Homo sapiens: one gene and its partner. The main gene of each other region encodes a partner of the protein of the gene in region 2 in a complex. Each region holds a gene or a part of one and is shown on either strand. Other genes may lie near its edges. A codon is read from its position in the direction of its gene.

Evidence for each region. The genes of interacting proteins can lie anywhere in the genome.
Region 1: the proteins of ZBTB16 (region 2) and IRF2BP2 are in contact, whole or in part, in a crystal structure (PDB 8YTH), measured with the Homo sapiens proteins. Residues at the interface, in NP_001018011.1 of Homo sapiens: Arg285, Ser287, Val288, Ile289, Thr290, Ser291; in NP_892017.2 of Homo sapiens: Thr516 (codon at 177), His517 (codon at 174), Phe518 (codon at 171), Val519 (codon at 168), Gln520 (codon at 165), Pro522 (codon at 159), Phe531 (codon at 132), Leu557 (codon at 54), Trp564 (codon at 33), Ala565 (codon at 30), Phe566 (codon at 27), Met567 (codon at 24), Glu570 (codon at 15), Thr573 (codon at 6), Ile574 (codon at 3).

What each region holds. Positions count from the first base shown.
Region 1 is NC_000001.11:234,607,179-234,614,931, forward strand, and holds the start of IRF2BP2 (interferon regulatory factor 2-binding protein 2), read right to left. Parts: upstream 3,001-7,753; 5' UTR 2,317-3,000; coding exon 1,269-2,316; intron 675-1,268; coding exon 1-674. UniProt on the Homo sapiens protein: Acts as a transcriptional corepressor in a IRF2-dependent manner; this repression is not mediated by histone deacetylase activities. Represses the NFAT1-dependent transactivation of NFAT-responsive promoters.
Region 2 is NC_000011.10:114,062,684-114,069,757, reverse strand, and holds part of ZBTB16 (zinc finger and BTB domain-containing protein 16), read right to left. Parts: intron 6,548-7,074; 5' UTR 6,458-6,547; coding exon 5,190-6,457; intron 1-5,189. UniProt on the Homo sapiens protein: Acts as a transcriptional repressor. Transcriptional repression may be mediated through recruitment of histone deacetylases to target promoters. May play a role in myeloid maturation and in the development and/or maintenance of other differentiated tissues.

The DNA.
Region 1 (7,753 bases), on a different chromosome or scaffold from region 2:
GATGGTTGCAATTTCCCCTTGCATAAAGGCCCAGGGGACATTGGAGCCCACAAGAGGGCATTTTTCCCCACTGGGACAATAGACCTCTCCACTAGCTCCCTGCTGTTTGATGCTTTGTCTGGAGCAAGGGAAGCAGAACTTGTGCGAAGGGACGGACGGGCACTGCACAAAATGGGTGTCCTCCAGCCGCTCGTGGCAGAGGGTGCAGCACAGCGGGGCACTGGTTGCCAGAGAGGAGTCCGGGAGGCTGGCAGGGTGCACTGGCTCCAGTCCTCCTGTGTTGCCTGCTCCCTGGCCCCCCACCTCTCTGGGGCCCAGCCTTCTTTGGTTCATAGAGGACGGAGAGGGCGGACTGTTGCTATTCCTCCTGGTAGTGGAGTGAACCTGGTTGGCATCTTTTGAGGCATGACTGCCCCCTGCATTGTCTGCTACTAAGATCAGGGCTGCCATGGGGGACTGGCCATTCTGGGCCGCTTCAGGCGGTGTGGTCCGGTTGGAATGAGGTGAGGCAGTGGGTGGTGGCGGAGACACAAAAGAGGATGTAGGAGTCATGGGGATCTTGAGCCCCTCTGTGGATGTGGACAGCCACGGCTGGGCCTCTCCGTTGATCTTAGGGGGCCCGACTTCACCTTCTGGTTCTGGAGAGGGCTTCCTTTTCCTTGCTGTTCTTGCAACTGGAAACACAAAGAAATAAAAGGAAAAAGGTAACATAAGTGGCGGTGCACTGAAAGAGATCATTCTCTTCCTAACCCGAAACAAAAGTCGTTACAGAATTCCTCCTCTCTAAAAGCACAGACAGAAAATACTCATATACGAGTTTCAGGTGCACATGCAACTTAAAACCTTCAGGCGTACGGGATTCTGAGGCAGCAGACTGATTTAAAATGGAGCCACTGAAAATGACACGCTTGTAACTGCCTGTTTGTACACATGCACAAAAGTACCCTCGTTTGCACTCAACATGTGACTGCTAATGTCCCCCAATAGGTTAAAAGGTGACTGGTGCCCTCATGCTCCCATCCAAGAATGTGCTGGGAAAGGAAAACCCCGTGTCAGAGCGTATCAGCCCAGTCTGACTCATCTCTGTTATGCTGCTTCAGCACATGAACACGTTGCCACCAAGCACTGGTTCCGCCTCAGGCAGATCAGGAAGTGGGGTGTTTGTTGTTTCTGGGCTGGGGTAAAATGGTGAATCCAAAGAACCACCCTTCCTCTGCTCTCCGTCCCCTTTTCTCCCCTAGACCCCCTCACTTCACAGCCGCCCCTACCTGCTTTAGACCCGTTGGCCCCGTTGGCCTCGAAACCCAACAACCTGCCTGCAGTCAGGGCCGGCTCCTTCTTAAACTTGCTCTCGAAGGGCCCCGAGTGGCCGTGCTGGTGCAGCGCCAGCAGCGTGTCGCGCACGGTCTTGGGCCTGTTGACCCAGTCCTGCTCTCCAGACCCGCGGCTCTTGCCCGCACCTTCCGCGCTCAGCTCGGCGGCCCCGGCCGCGGTGGACAGGCTGTCGGCCGGGCCCCGGTGCGCAGGCGGCGGCGGTTGTTTCTCCTTGGCTGCCGCCTCACGCTGCTCGTGCTCCACGGCAGCGCTGCTCGACACGGATGCCGGCCGCTTGTGGGCGCCCAGATCGGTGGGCTGCGCGGAGCCCAGGCTGGCGGCCGCGGTTCCGGACACCGCGGCTAAGGAGGCGGCAGCGCGGCCGCCGAGGCCGAGCGCGGTGGGCAGCGGCGTGGCCGAGCCGTTCATGAGCGGCACCAGGGTGGGCGGCACCGCGTGGCCGCGCCGCGGGTTCGGGCTCTGGCGATTCAGCTCGGGCGGCTCCTCTAGCTTGGAGAAGCCGTTGGGCACCAGGATGCCGTTCACGGGCGGCGGCTGCGGCGTCGGCGGCTGGGCCAGGCTCGCTGCCGGGCGGCTGCTGCCGAAGTCAGAGCCGAGGCGCGGGGGCCTCTCGGCCGCGGCCGCCAACGGGTAGCGCTCCAAGGCCTGCGGCGCGCGCGGGGCCGCCTCGGGGCCGCCGTGGCCAAGCTGCTGCTGCTGCTGCAAAAGGATGTCCTTGGCGGAGAGCGGCGGCGGCTTGGCGGCGGCCGAGGCCGCGGCGCCGGGTGGGGAGCGACCCTCCGGGAAGCAGCCGTGCGCCCGCTTGAGCTGCCGCGCCGTCTCGATGACGAACTCGACGCGGTCGGCGCCCTCGTAGTTGACGCAGCCGCGGCAGACGGGTTCGGTGAAGTCCCAGATCATGGCCCAGGGCATGCGGGGCAGGTCACACAGGTAGCACGACTGCCGCCGGGACGCGGCCGCCACCGCCACCGCCGCGGCCATGTCCGAGGAGCCCGCGACGCCGGAGGAGGAGGCGGAGGAGGAGGAGGGGGCGCCGCCGCCGCCCCCCACCGGCACCACGCGCGCCCTCCTCCCCCCCCAACCCCGCGTCTCCCCCACCAGCGGCGGCGGCGGCCGCAAAGGCGGCGGCGGCGGCGGCAAAGCCCGCGAAGGCTCGGCGCCCGCGCAGCGCCCCCGGTGCACGAGGGGCGGCGGGCGCGAGGTGAGGGGCTGCAGCCGCGGCAGCAGTTCCCCCCGGCCGGCCCGGGCACGGGCGGGCGGCGCGGCGCGGCGGGGCGGCGGGCGCGGCGGTGGGGGCTCGGCCGGAGCCGCGGCGGGCCTCCAGACCGGGGCGAAGACGGGCCGCGCGGGCGCGGGGGAGCGCAGCAGGTCGCGGCGGCGGCCGGCACGGAGTGCGGGGCGGGGGGCGGGGAGGCCGGGGGGGCAGGGGGCGGGGGGCGGCCGCCGGGGCAGGCTCAGCCCGAGCGGCGGGGCATGCCGCGCCGGGGTGGCGGCGGCCGGGCGGCGTGGAGCTCGGGCGCGGCGCGGGCCCCGGGTCGCTCCGCCGCTCTCTCACAGCTCCTGGCGTCGCCGCTCTCCAGCGCCAGCGTCAGCGGCCAGCCCGCCTCAGCTCCGCCGCCGCCACCGTCGCTGCTGCTGCTGCCGCCGCGACCGCTCCACTTCTACAGACTTGATTCTTCGACAGTCTCGCACGGCGCCTGCGCGGGCCCCCTCCCCTCGTGCGCGTGCCCGCCCTCCCGCGCGCGCGCTCCCCCTCCCCCCGCGCGCCGAAGGAGCGCTGCCGGGAGAGCCGGCTACGCGGCGCCCGCCCGCCCGCGGGGCAGCGCAGCAGCGCAGCGCCGGTGTTCCCTTCGGAACACCGCGCAAAGTGATCGAGTGCTTTTCCTCCACTTTCCCTCACTTCGCGCCCCACCCGGCTGTCCCGACCACCCTCAGGATGTTTTCCTCTGGTGTGCCTCTGGGCCAAATCGTGCTAAAAATCATTTTTTTTCTTTTATGCAAGGACACTTTGTCACTTGGTTTCCGTCAGTCTCCTGAGAATGGGGAATTTAGGTCTAGCGTGGTTCACAGTTCTGGTTTTTTAGGAGTTATACTTGAAAGCTCAATGTCGGACACATAGCATGAAATCCGTCACTGGTGCTTTGCATTTGTCTTGGAAAGGACATACGCCCCGCCTGTCCCTTTTACTAACTAGGGAGACTGTGAATATTCCCAAGCCCAGCACCACGTGCACACGCCGCCAGCTGGCTCGCGCGTTTTCCACGGAGCCCTCTGGAGGGGAGGGAGCGCGGTTCGGACTAGCCTCTCCCGAACACCAAGTGCCGCTCTTAGCCCCGTCCAGCCCGCCCTGTTCATCGGGGGCCTCGCCGCGCCAGTCGCCCCGGCTGCCTTATGTAGGTATGCGCGGCGGGCGCGTGACGTGGGCGCGGGGCCGTGGGCGGCCGCCGCCGCGAGTGCGCACGCTCCGCGCAGACGTGCCTCGGCGCCGCTGGCACTAGGGCCTCGTGGAACGAATGCACATTCCAGGGATCCGGGGTCTACGGCCAGCGCGGCCGCGTCACAGCGCAGGCTCCACCCCCTTCGGCGAGTCTGGGCGTCGAGGCGCCGCCCCCGGGCCCGAACTTGGACTCGAGGTGGCGGGAGGCGAGGGCGCGAGTGGGGGGGGGGGGGGTCCTGCTCGCCTCCGCGAGGTTCCCGAGGGCCGTGGGGGCGACCGGCTGGCTGGCTGGCCCGCCGTCCCGCAGGGCGGGCCGCCGACGGAGGCGGACTTTTGCCCTATATGCCACCCAGGCCGGGATGAGCCCGGCCTGCAGGTCTGCCACCGTTGGCAGCCTCAGACTCAGCCCAGACTGAATTGAATGTTTGAGTTTCGCACTTTTATCGGGAGGAGGAGCTAGTGTGTGTTATGGTAAATCACTTTGGGCTGGTCGTTAGTCTCCCTAATACACGTAGGCTTAGTCGCTCTTCAATTGGGACTTTTACACTTAAGCTCTTTAAGGGCGGCCTCTGGAGCTGCTTTTGTTGGGAACACAGGCCCACAACTCTCCCTTGAGACTGGAATGAGCTGGTTAAGTGTGGGAAGAACAGGGTACTAATTATATTATCTTTCCTACAACTGGATTGGTAGGTGGAGAGAAAAAAAAAATCATGCTGACGTTTCTCTCTAGTCGTTGCTATTGAAAATACCAGGTTGCTTCAAAGGATTAACCACAAGGAAGAGGAAAAACACCCTTAGAGAAACAGTGGAGGGAGCTGCTTAAAACACATGAAAAAACCTGTTCGAAAATGGCACAGAAAACGTAATGTCAGACCTAAATGTTTTTACAGGCTAACCTTGAATGTCTTTTGGGGATTTCCATAGAAGGTGCGCCTGTTTTAAAGGTCTCTGCATCTGTTCCTGGATCTTGCCCTGCAATTGCAATCCTGCCTCACCCTCTCCAAGCTGGGAGAATGGGGCCTGTCCAGATCCTTCCCGGGAGTAGCTGGTGCCAGCGGGTTTGGTCACTCCCAGGCCCTGCTGTTGCACACCGCTTTCAAGACCTGTCCCTTTGGTCACCCTCCTCAGAGACCCTGTGACACTCATTCCAGTACATGCCTTCACCCACTGCGTCACTGCCCAAAGGGGATGAAGTCCAGTCCTTGTGCTGCAGAGAAATGAACCAACTCATCGCCCCCAAGAGACGGCCCCACTAAGCATTGACTGAAACATACTAAAAGAAAACACAACTCACCATTAGAGTTGTGGCCTAATTATACTCATTTCTCTGCAAGCTGGTACTGTAATGGCCTCAAGGGGAGAGCCTGCCACTCCATCCTAAAATAGAATTAGAGATAGAAATTCTGCCACGATACTAAGATCTTTGCAAAACGGAGCTTTTCTTCTCCAAAGGAAGAGCATTTCCTTCTTATTTTACACTGCCAGTTTCATGTCGAAACTGAGTTGTTGTAACTTCCCTAATGAAATGCCCGATGGAAAATGGAAGGGCTATTTTAGTTCTGGGCTCGATCCGGAATCAAGGGGGTTAAGGCTGGATTCAGGGCAGCAATTCCTTATATTGTATCAGAAGTCTTTCATGCAGCCTGGCCTTTCATGTAGCTCTGAAGCAGCTTTATCGATGTATGCTAAGTAAACATAGCTTTGTTTTTGTCTTCCACCCACCGCTCCCTCCCGGCACAGACTGGAGTTGGATCCCATCCAAAGCGGCTGCTGCAGCAGTTACAGCCGCCTCCTCCACACACAGGAGCAGGGTTTCTAGGGTGAGGCAATGCGTCTGCAATTCGCAGAGACAAGGCAGGAATTGTAATTGTAGTTCATCATGTGATGACTTATGAAAGAGGAAGTTGGTATGTTTTAGTCACGTAGACTCTGCCCTCTTGCTTGAGGCACCAGGTCCTCTCAAAAGAGAATTATGATCATCTTTGCCACCCAGAGTCAAGGTTACCGGGTTGGCTGCAGTGTGCTCCTGCACATTCATATACGGACAGGCAGGCAGATGCTGGGCCAAGTGTCGGCGACGCAGCGGGATGAGGCTGGCTTTTCACCAGAACACTAAAATGTTGCAATTTGTCTTAAGGACTAAAGGAAATATTCTATGGAGAACACTCCTGCTGAGACTAGACAAACCAACAGTCCTTTCCAGCTCTAATTTCTGAGAGTTGTTTTTTTTTTTAAATAAAAATCACAGTGTAGGAGTAAAAGGAAAGCCATTCAGTATGACACTATCAGAAAAGCAGGAATAAGGAAGTGGCTTGGAAGGCAAACCTAAGAGAGCAGTTGTAAGCGATAGCTCAATGGGTAGAACTAATGTGACCTTCCGACACTGAGATTGAAACGGGCTTCTACTGCGTGAACGTTAAACATCTAAAATCTGAATCTGGTTTCCAGAGCTTACTCCAGTCAAGCAGCTATTAACACACGGAAGCCCTGAACTGACAGTCTATAGAGCAGTGTAAAGAAACGGTTCCTACAAGAGTACCTTATTGGAACTTTGCCCCCAGGTTATGCAGCTGCAAGAGGGGTGCAACCCCATTCCCCCAGCAGCTTGTGGGTGCTGTCCAGGAGATAGATGGTATTCCTAGGAACTGCTGAGTTCGTGGCTTTCACCCTCTATCCAGAGGTGGAATCACAGCCTTCATTCTTTAGAGTGCAGTTTCCTTAAATAGCATGATGTTGCAACCATGCTAAAGCTTCTTAAACTCTGATCTTGGCGTATTTGAAGAAGAGAAAAAATGCAGCCACATTTCATCTGGATTTCTGTGGACATCATTGCGGGTTTCTTCAGCTTTGGCAAAAGTGTCGTAAGGTTTGAAGAGCACACGTGATATTCAGGGCTTTTCCAATTTTTTAAATAAGTTATATATATTTGAACACATTTGTTTATATGAATATATCTACACATACTATGGAGCACCATGACATAAATGAACCTTCTGTAATTGATATGAGAGTCTTCCTTCTTAGTAACAGCATTTTATGAGACAATCTTACTGTTTTTCAAATTGCAAATATTCTTTTTTAGAAATACTTTCCCTCTGTTTGACCTCTCTCTATAGCCTACCTCCCCTGTGCACAGAGCATACAGATATTAAAGAGACTTTTGCATGTGGAGGAGATAAACTCTCTGTGGAGGGTCTAAGAATCAAGCCAGATAAAATCACAGGAGCTCTTAATCATCCACATATTGTACACAGAAGCTGTTAGTCGGCAGCCTATATGTCAACGTATGTATAGGTCCCTATTTAGAGCAAAATTTGGGATCTTGATGAAGGTTAAATACTCACTGTGTCAGAATTTAAAGAGCTAAGTGAGAAACAGACAAAATAGACAAAGGAGAGATTGAGGTCACACACTTGCTCAGTCTGCAAGGAAATTTGTAGAACTGGAAGGGATTCAACAGCCATTTGATGCCAGTAAACCTCCTATTGACTTTTTGGAAAAAGCAGGATGAAATGCACTTTTCTGGAATATCTGGATGTGGGTTTAACTTAGAATATTTAAAACACTCACTGAAGCCCTTTGAAAGATATCAGTAGGAAGATGTTGACAAAATAATGAATTAACTTCACAGATAATGTTTGAAAATATAAAAATGGTAAATTTTCCCTTCTTAGCTTTTCTATTAAAAAATGTACATTTCCTACATACACATTCCATAGCATAAGAACTGAAAAAGTCAAATAATGTAATAATTCTAAAACGTTAAAGAACAGTACGATGGCATGGTATTTGCTGTATCTTTCACATGAACATTTTAAAAAGATATTTCAAGGATAAATTCTATTCTCTTGTCATCCTTTTCAGAAACTAAAAACCTGACTTACCTAAAGTAACATGAAAAGTGAGTGTCAGAGGCCAGACGCGGTGGCTCACGCCTGTAATCCCAGCACTTTGGGAGGCCACAGTGGGTGGATCAGGAGG
Region 2 (7,074 bases):
CATTGCTGTGGCTATCATTATTCTACAGCATACCCTTTTCCAAACAGAATTTAGTTTGACATCAGAGGTTCTGGACGGGATGATGAAAGAAAACCAAGAGTCTCAGGAAACCTCAAAAATCCCAAAAGTAGCCTAAACCAAGGTCAACACCTGTTGGCCTTCTACATGATCAACCACTAAAAACAGAGCAGCTGACCATCTGAGAGAGACCAAGGCCAAGGGCCAGGCAGAACTCTGATATCTTAGCCACAAAGCTCATGCACCGTACAGCTGGCTCCACAAAGCCTCTGGGAAGGGCTGTACACACGGATCCAGAAAGCTGGCTCAGACATTCCCTGTGGTTCCTGAGAATCCCTTCAAGAACCAGGCAATAGGCCGGGCGTGGTGGCTCACACCTGTAATCCCAGCACTTTGGGAGGCCGAGGCAGGTGGATCACGAGTTCAGGAGATCGAGACCATACTGGCTAACACGGTGAAACCCTGTCTCTACTAAAAATACAAAAAATTAGCCGGGCGTGGTGGCGGGTGCCTGTAGTCCCAACTACTTGGGAGGCTGAGGCAGGAGAATAGCGTGAACCTGGGAGGCAGAGCTTGCAGTGAGCTGAGATCGCGCCACTGCACTCCAGCCTGGGAGACAGAGCGAGACTCCATCTCCAAAAACAAAAAGGAACCAGGCAAGAGTTGCGACGGTGTCTGTGCAGGACATCCACTGCAGCTGACCTAAGTGCTTGTCTGTATAAGATCCAGAAACCAGACCCCATTGTGCCTCTGCAGCACTAAATTCAGAAACACATAAAGACCAAGCTGCGTGAGCCATGGGAGACTAGGGACTATAAATGAGGACTATGTTCACACTTAAGTCTATAGAACTATACTGTTCCCTGCAATCTTATCGCATATGTACGTAACTCTGAGAATGATCAGGTGCTCCTGGCCTGGATGAGCTGGTTCCTAGACCATTTCCAGAGAAGCCTACATGCAGAACTGCTCCAGCCTTTTGGAATAAGAAAGGGAGGGCCCAGTGTTCCAGAATCCTGAGATGATCTTCCCCTCCCTCAGGCATTATCCTCTGTAATGTGGATGCACTGGTGAAGATTTGGGGGCCCAAAGCTTGCTCCTTCATCTGCCTGCAGAATACTGCTTATCTATCAGATCTTCCCACTGTTCTGACTTCCTTCTGGTTTGTTTAGGTAAGTCAGTCCCATTGGATGCCTTTGTCTGGTCTTCCCACCCATCCATGACTACACTTGACACTGCATCCCTTTTACAGCACGTCATTCCTGCAGTGGACGGCTTGTACATCTTGCTGTCCGCTGCAGGAAACAGGCTCTACAACTCCACTAAGTTTGATTCTCACTATCTGTTGAGCCAACAGCTTACCCTTCACTCCACACCAGCTTGGGATCAAATCATGGGGAAACTTACCGATGACATTCCATAATAAACTCCCTGCCTTCCTGCCTCACTTACCAGCAATCCGCCTTCATTTCCTCTCCATTCCCTTCTGCCCCCCCACCCCAAGAAGAAATGCAAGAAGGACTGCTGGGTATCTAGTCTTTACCAACACTCAGGCCTATTGACTTAAAAATAAAATAAAATAAACCCTGTAGCCTGTTATTTTATCACTGATATATTTCCAGTGAATGCCATGGCTTCCTGGCCTCAAAATCTCCCCTTCTGATTTTTTTTTTTTTTTTGTCTTGGCTTTTTGTTTGTACTGGTTATAGGGCTGTTGTTTTTTTTTTTCCACCATAGCATTTCTCAGACTGCTGATGGGTTGGGGGGAGACAGAGAACAGTAGAAAAAAGGGAATAGCACATTAATCCTGGAGTTTTGAGGGTGAGGGGGAGAAAAAAAGCCTTCTACAAAGTACATCTAGCTGGGACCCGAGGGGCTGTTGATCTGAGTGAGGGCTGAGCACACGCAGGATTATTTTCTCCCCTTTCTGATTTCTTTAGACCCCCAAGCTTCCCATCAAAGGCACTGCCCCTGGCTCTAACTTCTTGGGCTGCAGCTGCTGACTTTCCACCCTCAGTCAAAAGCACATTCTCGGCCCAGCAGGGTGGCACACACCTATAATCCCAGCACTATGGGAGGCCGAGACAGGTGGATCACTTAAGGCCAGGAGTTCCAGGCCAGCCTGACCAACATGGTGAAACCCCATCTCTACTAAAAATACAAAAATTAGTCGGGCATGGTGGTACACATCTGTAGTCCCAGCTGCTCAGGAGGCTGAGGCAGGAGAATCACTTGAACCCGGGAAGTAGAGGTTGCAGTGAGCCAAGATCATGCCACTGCACTGCAGCCTGGGCGACAGAGTAAGACTCTGCCTCAACAACAACAACAACAACAAAAGCACATTCTTCCTGTCAGCAGCCCACATGTGACACGGAGGATTCCAGGGCCAGTGTCTTGCTGTCATATGCTCACAAGGACAGGGACATTCTCTGCACCACCTCACAGTCAACACAACCCTCATGGAGGGTGGCACTGTGGACACTACACACTAGAACTCAGAGCCAATGAGGACCATGCAGAGATGAGGCCTAAACAACACAAGGGACAGATGGTCAGTTCTCCACCGCTGCGGTGACTATGTGCCCATCACAGCTCTAGTGATTTCTGGATCTTACTTCATTAATTCAGCACCAACCCTGTTGACCGTCTCCATTTTAAGAAGTGAGTGAAGGCCGGGCGGGGTGGCTCACAGCTGTAATCCCAGCACTTTGGGAGGCCGAGGTGGATGGATCGCAAGGTCAAGAGATCGAGACCATTCTGGCCAACATGGTGAAACCCTGTCTCTACTAAAAATACAAAAAATTAGCTGGGCGGGGTGACAGGTGCCTGTAGTCCCAGCTACTCAGGAGGCTGAGGCAGGAGAATCGCTTGAACCCGGGAGGTGGAGACTGCAGTGAGCTGAGATCACGCCATTGCACTCCAGCCCGGTGACAGAGCGAGACTCCGTCTCAAAAAAAAAAAAAAAAAAAAATGTAGTGAGTGAAACAAGGCCCAGAAAGGTTAAATAAGTATCACAGGCTCTCACCACTAAATATGGCCAATTCCAATACCCAGGCTCTTTCGAATATAACATGGCCAACTCTCCCTCTCTCCCCAGAGGAATGAGGGTCTTGCTGAAGGGGAACTTGGAAGTCTCAGGAGAGTGGTATCTTTTGTGGCCCTCTCGGGTAAAGAAAAGCAACCAGGAACCAGGACCTGATGAGAGCCAGAAAAACAATTACTTCCCACCATACCCAGTTCTCATAGCACACAGCCGAAATAATTCACATCCGGAAAGATGATACATCTATCTGGTCAACTTTGGGGAGCGGGTTTCCTCTTTAGGAAAGTTTGAGCAAAAACAAACACAACCTCAGTCTATTTCTGAGCGGTACAAGCATCAAGAAGACACACCTTAGTGGCGGTTATTTTTCGCACCCACTGGAAAAAGTCGGCTACGTTTAGCTCTGCCACACTTTCCACAAGTTAAGCCTCTGAGCTGTCGAGGAGGCAGGGTCAGAGCAGATTCCGGCTAGGGGTGATGAGATCAACTTCCAGATATCCCCACCCCAACCCCTCTCACTCACATCCCCCGTACCTGAACGAGCAACAGGGGAATGGGGGTGAAGGGGGAGGAAGTGGAGAATCCACCCAAGATCAGCAAAACAGCAGACCACAGGGTATGCAGCCAAATGCTGTCGTCAATGACAACAGAAAGCTGGATTTCTTGACTCCATTCATCTGACCCAGAAACTAGAGGATAAAATGATGGGCACGTGGTTTATGACAGAAGCAAGGAAAAAAAAAACAAACTCGCTACTTATCCCCCCTGTTATTTACTCCACTTCCTATAAGCAATCTTCAAAACGCTCTGTTCCATAGACATGATCCTCTTCAAGTCTAAGTGACTCCAAGAGGCAGCAAAGTACCAGGGGGTAAGGACCTAAATTTGAATCCAGCTCTGCCTCTTACTATCTATGTGACCCTAGAAAAGAGACTTGACATCTGAGCCTTAGTATTGTTCCATGTAAAAGAAGGACATTACCAGCTGGACACGGTGGCTCATACCTGTAATCCAGCACTTTGGGAGGCCGAAGCAGGCCGATCACCTGAGGTCGGGAGTTCGAGACCATCCTGACCAACACGGTGAAAGCCCGTCTCTACTAAAAATTCAAAATTAGCCAGGTATGGTGGTGCGTGCCTGTAATCCGAGCTACTCGGGAGGCTGAGGCAGGAGAATCACCTTAACCCGGGATGCAGAGGTTGCGGTGAGCAGAGATCACACCATTGCACTCCAGCCTGGGCAAGGAGAGCGAAACTTCACATCCAAAAAAAAAAGAAGGACATTACCTATCTCAAAGGGCTGTTGTAATGAAAATGCAACTCATGGAAAGTGCTTAGTACTGAACCAAACATGTCATAAGAGCTCAATGAATGGTTATTTCATAGAGAAGGAAACGGAAGCCGGAGGGAAGCCAATGCTAGCCTGAAGCGGCATTTAGTTCAGTGTGAGCAGAGATGGGATAAGAATGAGACTTCACAGGCTGCAAGACCAAGACTCTTATACCCATCCTTTCCCCTTGCATTTAAATCAATTCCCCCTAAATGCATGTGCAGGATCAGAGAATGAGAAGGGAGACAGAGCAAGGAGATTAACTTTCACCAGGAATAAGGTTCAGAACCTGCAGCTGCTCTTGTGGCTTAAGCAGCCCCCAGACCCTCCCATTCTCCCAAGCTGCAGAAAGGGACAGGCTGTCTTCACAGGGACCACTGCATGGGAACCCGAGGACCTGAAACCTAGTAACATGGTCAGATGCAGGGCCCAAGAGACCCTCATCCCACTCCTTTTCTCCTTCTCTCCATTTTATCAGTCACTCCAAGCAAAGGAGAACAGACCAAACAGCCGAAAAAACAAACAGGGGCCCAAAAGCAAAAAACAAAGGGAAGGGCCTATTAAGAAGCTGCGCCCATGAGTGTCCCCTGGTGCTTTTTGGAAAGATCCTAGGCCCCCTCACTACACTTTAAAAAACCTGCTCCCCTCCCCGCCAGAACTTTAGAAGAAGTGTTCTGGTTTTTTCACAAATTGCCAAGACAGGGGAGCCAGGCCCCTAACTTGGGAGCAGCCAGGGTGTGAAGGAGGGGTGTGAGGGCCTCAAGTCCTACATCAGGTGCGGGGCTGGAGCGGGGCCTACCTGTGCTGCTCCACAGCCTCGTTATCAGGAAGCTCGACCCCACACACGCTGCACTGCTCTCCGATGGTCCGGCTCTCTGACTTCATGCCCACAGCCAGCTCCCCCAGCTTGCTGAACAGCTCCCTCTGGATGAAGCCCTGGGGCAGCAGCCCCCCATAGGTGCTGAAGTCCATGGAGACAGCCAGGGCAGGCTGCACGTGGAGGCCAGAGGTCACGGAAGACGGCATGCTCAATACAGCGTCAGCCTTGTGGTTGGGCAACACGGAGTAGATGCCCAGATGCTTCTCAGGCGGGGGTGCTGGGTGCTCAGGTCGGCCAGTGGGGGCCTGGCCAGCCTCAGCTGGGGGTGGCACCTGCTCGGCACTCTCCTCTCGCCCATAGTGTAGCTCCCTAGCACTGGTGATGACGCTGCTTCGAGTCGGGGTCCCAGGCCCCTCTTTGCCTCTTTCCTCAACCTTGTCCCCCATCCCTCCTGAGATGCTGGACTCGGCTGCCCCAGGGCTGTCCTGGCTGGGCACCTCATCCACCTGCATCATCTCCGTCTTCACCTCAGCCACCCCAGGGTGCCGCCCACCCCCAGCCAGAGTTGGCTCCTCGGGCCCTGCAGGTGGCTGAAGAGTTCCCTGCAGGAGAGACTGTCCTATGGTCATCAAACTGTCCACTGCAGCCTTGGTGGGACTCATGGCTGAAAGACCAAATGAAGTGGAGACTGAAGGGCTCTGGTCCACCATGGGCCCAGGGAGGCTCTGTCCAGCCACACTGGCATACCCACTCTCCTCGCTGGAATGCTTCGAGATGAAGATGTTCTTGAGGTACCGAGCCTTGCGGTCCTCTTCTTCCTCGGCCCCGCCATCGGCCATGGTGGCCTCCGTGTCATTGTCGTCTGAGGCCTGGATGGTCTCCAGCATCTTCAGGCACTGTTCCTCCAGGTACTCGATCTCCAGGATCTCGGCCGCATACAGCAGGTCATCCAGGTCCTCCGCCTTGGCTTGCAGCGTGGCTGTATATGCATACTCCAGAATCTGCTGGAAGGTCTTTGGCGAGAGGAAGTCCAAAGTATAGTGTTGACTATTGCGGTGGAAGAGGATCTCAAACATCTTGCTGGTGCAGGCCAGCACCGTCCGGTGGGCGTGGAACTCCTGGCTGTCCACCATGATGACCACATCGCACAAAGTCCCGGCCAGCCGCATCTGGTTGGCCTTGCACAGTAGCCCCGTGGGGTGGCTAGGGTTCTGCAGCTGGATCATGCCCATTTTTGTCAGATCCATGGTGCTCCCCTCGGCTCAGGCATGAGGCTTTCTTTCCTTCTGGGCTCTGCGTGGCGGGGCTGGGTGGGCTTCCTGGGCCAATAGAGGAGGCTAGGAGAAAGAAGAGGGGAAGAAGCAAAAGAGATGAGAGAACAAAAGACAAATTCATCAGTGTCCCTAAAAGTAAGAATTCAACCACTACAACATGCCCCCTCCTCCCTGTTGCCAAGCCCTTAGCAAGAGGATCTTAGAGATTTTAATTGAAGTAGCTTCCTAGAAATCTACAAATCTGCCTTTCAAGCCAGGGATGCTGAGAGTAAAAAGAAGGTTCTGCCACAGCAGATGCCTAATTCACTACTCTATGACATCTGTTAGATGAAGTGAAATGAAAATTGTAGTGAAGTCCTATAAGTCCTCAGCTTTCTCTGTGTCTGAGAGTAGGGGCTCCCTAGGCAAGGCCAACATTCATTATGATGAAGTGCACTTACTTAAAATTAGCAAGACTTTAGCCCCTTCCTTGTCAGCTTCACGCCAGCCCCCTGGATGTCAAGCCTTATCTTTAAACAGTTTTTCCAAACTCTGCCTCACTACAGGAGCCCCAGAAGCAGAGTCAAACTCATTGGAGGCCAGGAGCCTGT